Homo sapiens: one gene and its partner. The protein of the gene in region 1 purifies or fractionates together with the protein of each later gene. This does not show direct contact. Each region holds a gene or a part of one and is shown in the gene's direction. Other genes may lie near its edges.

Evidence for each region.
Region 2: the proteins of MRRF (region 1) and LYRM7 purify together in Homo sapiens (affinity purification with mass spectrometry, with the first as the bait; one large-scale study listed by BioGRID). This does not show direct contact.

The regions. Positions count from the first base shown.
Region 1 is NC_000009.12:122,278,382-122,281,881, forward strand, and holds part of MRRF (ribosome-recycling factor, mitochondrial isoform 1 precursor), read left to right. Parts: intron 1-2,061; coding exon 2,062-2,217; intron 2,218-3,500. UniProt on the Homo sapiens protein: Responsible for the disassembly of ribosomes from messenger RNA at the termination of mitochondrial protein biosynthesis. Acts in collaboration with GFM2. Promotes mitochondrial ribosome recycling by dissolution of intersubunit contacts.
Region 2 is NC_000005.10:131,201,944-131,205,928, forward strand, and holds the end of LYRM7 (complex III assembly factor LYRM7), read left to right. Parts: 3' UTR 1-3,485; downstream 3,486-3,985.

The DNA.
Region 1 (3,500 bases):
CCCTTTGCAGATAACTATTATTCTGACTTCTAGTAGCATGGATTCGTTTTCTCTTTTTTTTTACTTTTCAGTTTATATTCTCATATCTGGCCTTTGTACTGTACAGTTTTGTTTTCTTGTGTCTGGCCTCTGTGTTCAACATCATGTTTGTGAGACTCATTTAAATTTTTGTGTGTGTTCATTCTTTCTCATGGTTGCATAGTATTTCATTCATAAATATTACTATTCATTCCAATATTGACAGGCATATCTTTAAATTATTAATGTGCATATTTGGTTTTAAAAGTTCAAAGTTGAAGATATTATTTCAGTTGCTTCTGGCTTCTGTTGTTGCTCTTGGAAAGTGTTCTAAGTTTTAATCCTTCATGGATAATTTGTCTTTTCTCTTGGGCGTTTATAAAGATCTCTTTGTCCTTTGTTTTCTGCAGTCACAACATGTCTAGGTGTGAATTTACTTTTATTGTCCTATTTGAAACTTGTGTTTCTCAATCCGAAGATCCACATCTTTTTTTTTTTTCTTTGATCTGTCGCCCAGGCTGAAGTGCAGTGGCACTGATCTCGGCTCACTGCAACCTCCACCTCCCGGGTTCAAGCGATTCTCCTGCCCCAGCCTCCCGAGTAGCCGGGATTACAGGCACACGCCACCACGCCCAGCTAATTTTTGTAATTTTAGTAGAGATGGAGTTTCACCATTTTGGTCAGGCTGATCTTGAACTCCTGACCTCGTGATCTGCCTGCCTCGGCCCCACAAAGTGCTGGGATTATAGGCATGAGCCACTGCGCCCAGCCCCACATCTTCTATCAGTTCTGAAAAAAAACCTAAGCCATTGGTTTCAAAGCATAATGGTAACATGGGCAAATAAATGTTTTTAAAAATCACTCTGTTGCTTACCAGTTGTTTACTTTGGACGAAACATTTAAATGGCTTGTGCCTTAGATTTCTCATCTGTACCATGGGGACAATACTAATCACTATTCTTCCTACCTCAGAGAGCTATCTTGGATAGCAAGGAGGAGAATGTACTTGAAATTGCATTGCAAGTTATAATATGCCACCCAAATAGTACAGGATTGAGTTCACTGTAGATGTTCAACAAAATTTATTTAATGAATCTCAATAAATATTTGTTGAATGTTTAATGAATAAACAGTGTAAATATTGTTTAAAATTTTATTGTTTTTCTCCTTCCCCATTCCCTATAAAAGAAATGCAAGAATATTTGCATCACTCACAGAAATTATCTATGTATACACCTAGAATGTATATGAAAAATCACTACGATGATTTAGACATAAAATGAAATTATATTCAGCTCCCAATGCTGTTGATTTTCTAAAATATAAGCCATTGTCTCTACCATTGGTAGTGTTTAATGTCTGTAAACTACTATTGTTCCTTTTGTCTGTACTCTACCAGCCATCAGATATTGTGTGCATATCCTTGTCTTAGTGTCCATTTTTAATGAATTAATGTATTTCCTGTCTCTCTAATTAGATTTTGTGGAGATGGGCTAGTGAAAAGTTCATGGGTTTAAAATTAGGCAGATCTGGAACCAGATCTTGACTTTTCCATTTCCTGACCTGTGACATTAGGCAAATAGCTTTACCTTTCTCATCTTCTGTTTACTTTTCTGAAAAGTAAGGGATTAATTTAGTTATGGATTCCCTGCCATGTGTATAGTGTTCTTTTAGGTGTTTGAATGACTTAATTTGTATCCTTGTAGCAACCTTGCAATATAGATGTTACTATTCTTTTACAGGTAGGGAACTTGATACTCAGAAAGATAACTTGCCTAAGGTCATAAAGCTAGTATGCATTATAGCCAGACTTCTAACCTGGGGTGTCTGATTATAAAGTGTGCCCCCTCACTAGTATCTGAGAAGGTGTTTAGCACAGTTGACACTCAGTTAATATAGGCTCTTTTTTAGTGGAGCGATAATGTTTTATAATTTTCTAACACTTGACATTTTTCCCTGTACATAGTAGGTACTTCTTCACCAATTGCTTATTGGCTCTGTTTATGCTGCTGTTGTTTTATTCACTGAATGTTCACTTTTTAGCCAAAGGGAAAGGACAGTCCCAAACCAGAGTGAATATTAATGCTGCCTTGGTTGAGGATATAATCAACTTGGAAGAGGTGAATGAAGAAATGAAGTCTGTGATAGAAGCTCTCAAGGATAATTTCAATAAGACTCTCAATATAAGGACCTCACCAGGTTAGTGACTGAACCAATGTTCTGGGGAGGGATGTAATGGAAAGAGCATGGGTTTGGCAGAGTTGAGTTTTAGTCCCAGCTTTGCCATTTACTAACTGGTGGCCATGGGCAGTTACTTTGCTTTTCTGGTCCTCGGTTTTCTTGTTTGATTCTTAACTTACAGCTTTGGGGTGGTAGTTAAAATAAATGAGGTAACGTATTATGGTTCTAGCATAGTGCCTGGCGCATAGTTAACACTACATTTATTTATCCATGCTGCAAATTTTTGTCTACTTTGGAACTAGGCATTGTGCTAGTGCATAGTAGTAAACAAAAATAGGTATTGTCTTTGCTATCATGGAATTAGACTCTCAGAAAAATGAGATTTTTATTATGAATGTACTATAAACACATCTAGGTATTTAGTCTCATAGTAACTGACATCTTTGGTCCGATTTTTCCAATTTGTCCTGTTTGGCAGTTCTTATCCCTTACTGGGAACCAAATGAATACAGACCTGCCCACGTGAGGCATTTCTATACCCCTGAGCTTGACCAGGAAGATTCCGTTTGGGTTAATAACTTCCTGAAAGTGGCTTTTCTAAGTGGGAAATGTCAGAACTGTCTAGGCCAACTGTTTGCAGATGTGATGGAGAAGTGAGTTGTCAGCTGATGGTGCAAGCAGGCAGGAAAAATCCAGTTGCTGTTAAATTAGGCTTTTGCAAATTGTCATCATCCTAAAGTCAAACCTGGGACCCCTCTCTTAAGGTACCTGTGGGAGCTTGGGCTGCTTCTACTCACATCTTGATTAGGATAGTTCATAAGAAAACTAGAAATATTTCGCTCTTAAGAAAACCAAGTGAAAAATACAGCTCCACTTATAAACACTATCAGAAACATTACCGAGTTCAGAGATGAGATCCAGTGTGAAACTAGAAGACTGTTCCCGTCACTTGTCAACCTTTGGGCTGGGGCATTTCTGCCTTTGCTGACAGTAGAGCGTGCCATTCAATCTCTCTCAACTGTTTATTTTAAACTTGCTTATTATTTTAGGTATGAAACTGATAAAGTGCTCTGTCTCCCCTGTGTTTTCTGGCCTGTTAACATTCTGCAGCCGAAACCAGAGAGCAGTTTGAGAGGAGCTCAGGGAGAAATGTGATACTTAAAATTAGCCAGCAAGCTCCACTCTTGTTGAACTTAAAAAGATGATGGGCCTGGAAAGAGGTTGGGAGTGTAATTTGTTAAATGTTAACCTCTGAGAAAATGAGGGGCAGGAATGAGGCTGAGGGAGATTCTCGCTGGGGA
Region 2 (3,985 bases), on another chromosome or scaffold:
CCAACTAAGCCTCCCAAATAGCTGAGACTAGAGGTATGCGCCACCACACCTAGCTATTTTTTTTATTTTTAGTAAGGACAAGGTCTCATTATGTTGGCCAGGCTGGTCTCAAATTCCTGAGCTCAGTTGATCCTCCCACCTCAGCCTCCCAAAGTGCTGGGATTACAGGTGTAAGCCACTGCACCCTGCCTATTCTTATAATCATATATTTATATTTCAAATGGATTTTAACTGGTTATTTAATAGTTTAATTAGATAAAGTAATTCATGGCTGGGTGTGGTGGCTCACGCCTGTAATCCCAGCACTTTGGCAGGCTGAGGCAGGTGGATTACCTGAGGTCGGAAGTTCGAGACCAGCCCAACCAACGTGGAGAAACCCCATCTCTATTAAAAATGCAAAATTAGCAGGACATGGTGATACACACCTGTAATCCCAGCTAGTCAGGAGGCTGAGGCAGGAGAATTACTTGAGCCAGGGAAGCAGAGGTTGTGGTGAGCTAAGATTGTGCCACTGCACTCCAGCCTGAGAGAACAAGACTCCGTCTCAAAAAAAGAAAAAAAGAAAACTTTTTTACACATGGGTATCTCACCATGTTGCCCAGGCTGGAGTGCAGTAGCTATTCATAGGCACAGTCATAGCACACTGCAGCCTAGAATTTCTGACCTCAAGCAATCATCCTGCCTCAGCCTCCTAAGTAGCTAGGACTACAGGTGCATACCACCATAACCAGCTTTAATTAAATGTTTTTTATTTGGTTATTTTTTTTAAGTTTTCTGTATTCACACAAGGGGTTGCCCAAATATAATTTTGCTTTGACTATTGAGATCTAGTGAAAGTGGGGTATATGAATTCTAATTGCAAATATCCAGGCTCAGAGGCCCAGCAGGACTTTCTAACACAATCTTTTAGCGGAAGTTAGAAATGGTATATAGCAGGAGAGTCAGATTTGAGAAGCATATGTAGATTCGAAGCTGGGGGAATATGGCAGGTAGTTTGTACAACATCTAATTCAGAACATTAAAATTAAGATTTTAGTCAAACTGTGTTTAAGTTAGTTCTTATTTTCCTGTAGATGCATCTCACAGCATCAGTACAATACCAAAAAAGCACACAAGAATAAGAATATGTGGAATTTCTATACCTATTGACAAAGCACATAATTTAACCATAAACACAAAGCCATAGGTCAACAAAGAAATGAAGATTCCAGTTCTGAAGGTGAGTTTTCTGAAGCCAAAGTGGATACATGCAAAATTAATATAGTTTTACTGTATATCAGTTGTCACCAATCAGAAATGGAAAACAGATCCTATTTATAATTGCAAACAAAACTGTAAAATAGACTTTTTAAAGTCTGGGAATAGACTTCTAAAATAAGCTATAACACTTAAAAAGGAGAGATATACTATGTTCCTAGATAGGACAATTGAAAATTCTGGAGATGACAGTTTTTCAAAAATCTATTGAGGCCAGGTGCAGTGGCCCATGCCTGTAGTTCCAGTACTTTGGGAGGCCTAGGTGGGTGGATCACCTGAGGTTGGGAGTTTGAGACCAGCCTGACCAACATGGAGAAACCCCGTCTCTACTAAAAATACAAAATTAGCCAGGCGTGGTGGTGCATGCCTGTAATCCCAGCTACTCGGGAGGCTGAGGCGTGAGAATCGCTTGAACCCGGTAGGCAGATGTTGCAGTGAGCCGAGATCGCACCATTGCACTCCAGCCTAGGCAACAAGAGCGAAACTCCATCTCAAAAATAGAAAAAACATTTATCGAAATCCCAACAAGTTGACAAATATATCCACATAAAAATATAAAACTTCTGTATTCTGTGAAAGCTACTATAAATAAAGTTTAGAGAAAGTTATTTGCCACCTATGTCATGATTGAAATAGTTAATTGATCCTGTGAATCAGTTAGCAAAACATAACTCAATGGAAAGATAGGCAAATGATACAAATAAGAAATTCACAAAAGAAGAAATACTAAGTCTCTAGTGATGAGAGAAATGTAAATTAAAATGAAACATGTTTGTTCATCAAGTTGTCACAAGTTAGACAATCATATCCAATATTTTTAAAGGTTGTAAGACTATAAGGAAATAGCCACTGTCATATCATTTTTAAAGGAATATAAATTATAGGGCCTTTTGTTTCTTTGGGTTTTTTTTTTTTAGAGACAAGATCTCTCCGTGTTGTCTAGGCTGGACTCAAACTTCTGGACTCAAGCAATCCTCGCAACATCATTAATAGCTGAGAGTAGAGACTTGAGCCACCACACCTGACTATAGGGCCTTTTTGAAAGGAAAATTGACATCATCAAAATTTTAAATATATTCAGTCTATTTCTCAAAAACTCAAAGAATACTAATAAATGTGTACTCAGGTATATGTACAGAAATTGCTGTAACATTATAATTTTAAACAATTTAAAACAGACTGAGTTTCCAAAGTTAGGGTACAATGAAAGAAAAGGTGGCTTATTTATACTCTGGAATATTTTCCAAGAGTTGAAAAGGATGAGGATACACACACACACACACACACACACACACACACACACACACACACACAGTTTGGGTATCCCTAATCCAGAAATTCAAATGCTCCAAAGTCCAAAACTTTCTGACCCACCAACATGACTGATGCTCAAAGGAAATGGCCACTGGAAGATTTCAGATTTTCAGATTTGGAGTGCTCAACCAGTAAGTATATAATGCAAATAATCCAAAATACAAAAAAAAAAAAAAAGAAATCTGAAACACTTCTGATCCCAAGCATTTCAGAAAACGGATGTTCATTTGTGTGTGTGTGTGTGTGTAAGCAGGTGTTGCTAGAAATTCACTTATATACAAGAAAACTTTTTGTGTACATATTTGCATATATATGTACAAATGGGTAGAAACGATACATGATTAATCTTAATCGGGAAGGAAAAGAGATTTAGGGAAGGAAGCAGTAAGTGAGAACTTTTATTCTATTTACTCCTGCACGTTTAAATATTGTTTACAGTGAGTATATCAACATGTAAGTGTTAAAAGACAATAAGCTACTAGTGATTTTTAATATAAAATTAACTATAAAATATTTTAAATATTAGCAAATAATATAGCACACTCATGAACCTAATTCCCACATTTGATAGTTGTTACATTTTGCCATGTTTGTTTAAAGGTCTAAGTCATAAAATCTTATAAAGCTAAACCCCACCCTTCTCTTTCTCCTCTCTCTCCAGGATAATTACTGTTTTATAGTTTGTGGATATCATTCCCTTACTTGTGTTTATACTTTTACCAAGTGTGTATGTATTCAAAAAACAGTTGTTTTGTGATTTTAAAATGTAAATGAATGGCGTTATGCTCCATGTATTCTGCAACTTTTCATCATACATTAGGTTTTGGCGATTTAGCCATAATTTGGCATGAATTCAGGTCTTTTAAGTTTTATTCCATTGTAAGAATAAACAAGTTTGTTCATTCATGTCTCCATTGATGAGTGATAGTATTGTCTCCAGTTTTTTTATGTTGCAAACCAATTTGCAAAAAACTCTGGCACATAGATTTTTACACCCAAGAAAAAGTTTACCTGGACATACACCAAGGAGCAGAACTGTTGAGTCCTAGCGTATGTGCATATTCAGCTTTTCCAGAAATTTCTAAATTGCTCTTTAAAATAGTTGTACCAGTTTACATTCCAATCGACAGTGTGTGAAAGGTCCCATTTCCCCACATCCTCACTGTTATGTATGATTTTTCTCATTGTCAAACTAATGGATATAAAATGGTATATTGTTTTAATTTGCATTTCTTAATTACTGGGGAGGCAGATCATCTTGTCATATGTTTATTGGCCATTATGGTTTCCCATTATGAATGTGTGTCTCTATCTTTTGTCCTCTTTTCTCTGTTGGGTTGTCTGGCTTTTTCTAACCAATCCTTTATATATTCTGGATACTAGTCCTTTGTTAATTATCTTTTTCCAATATGTG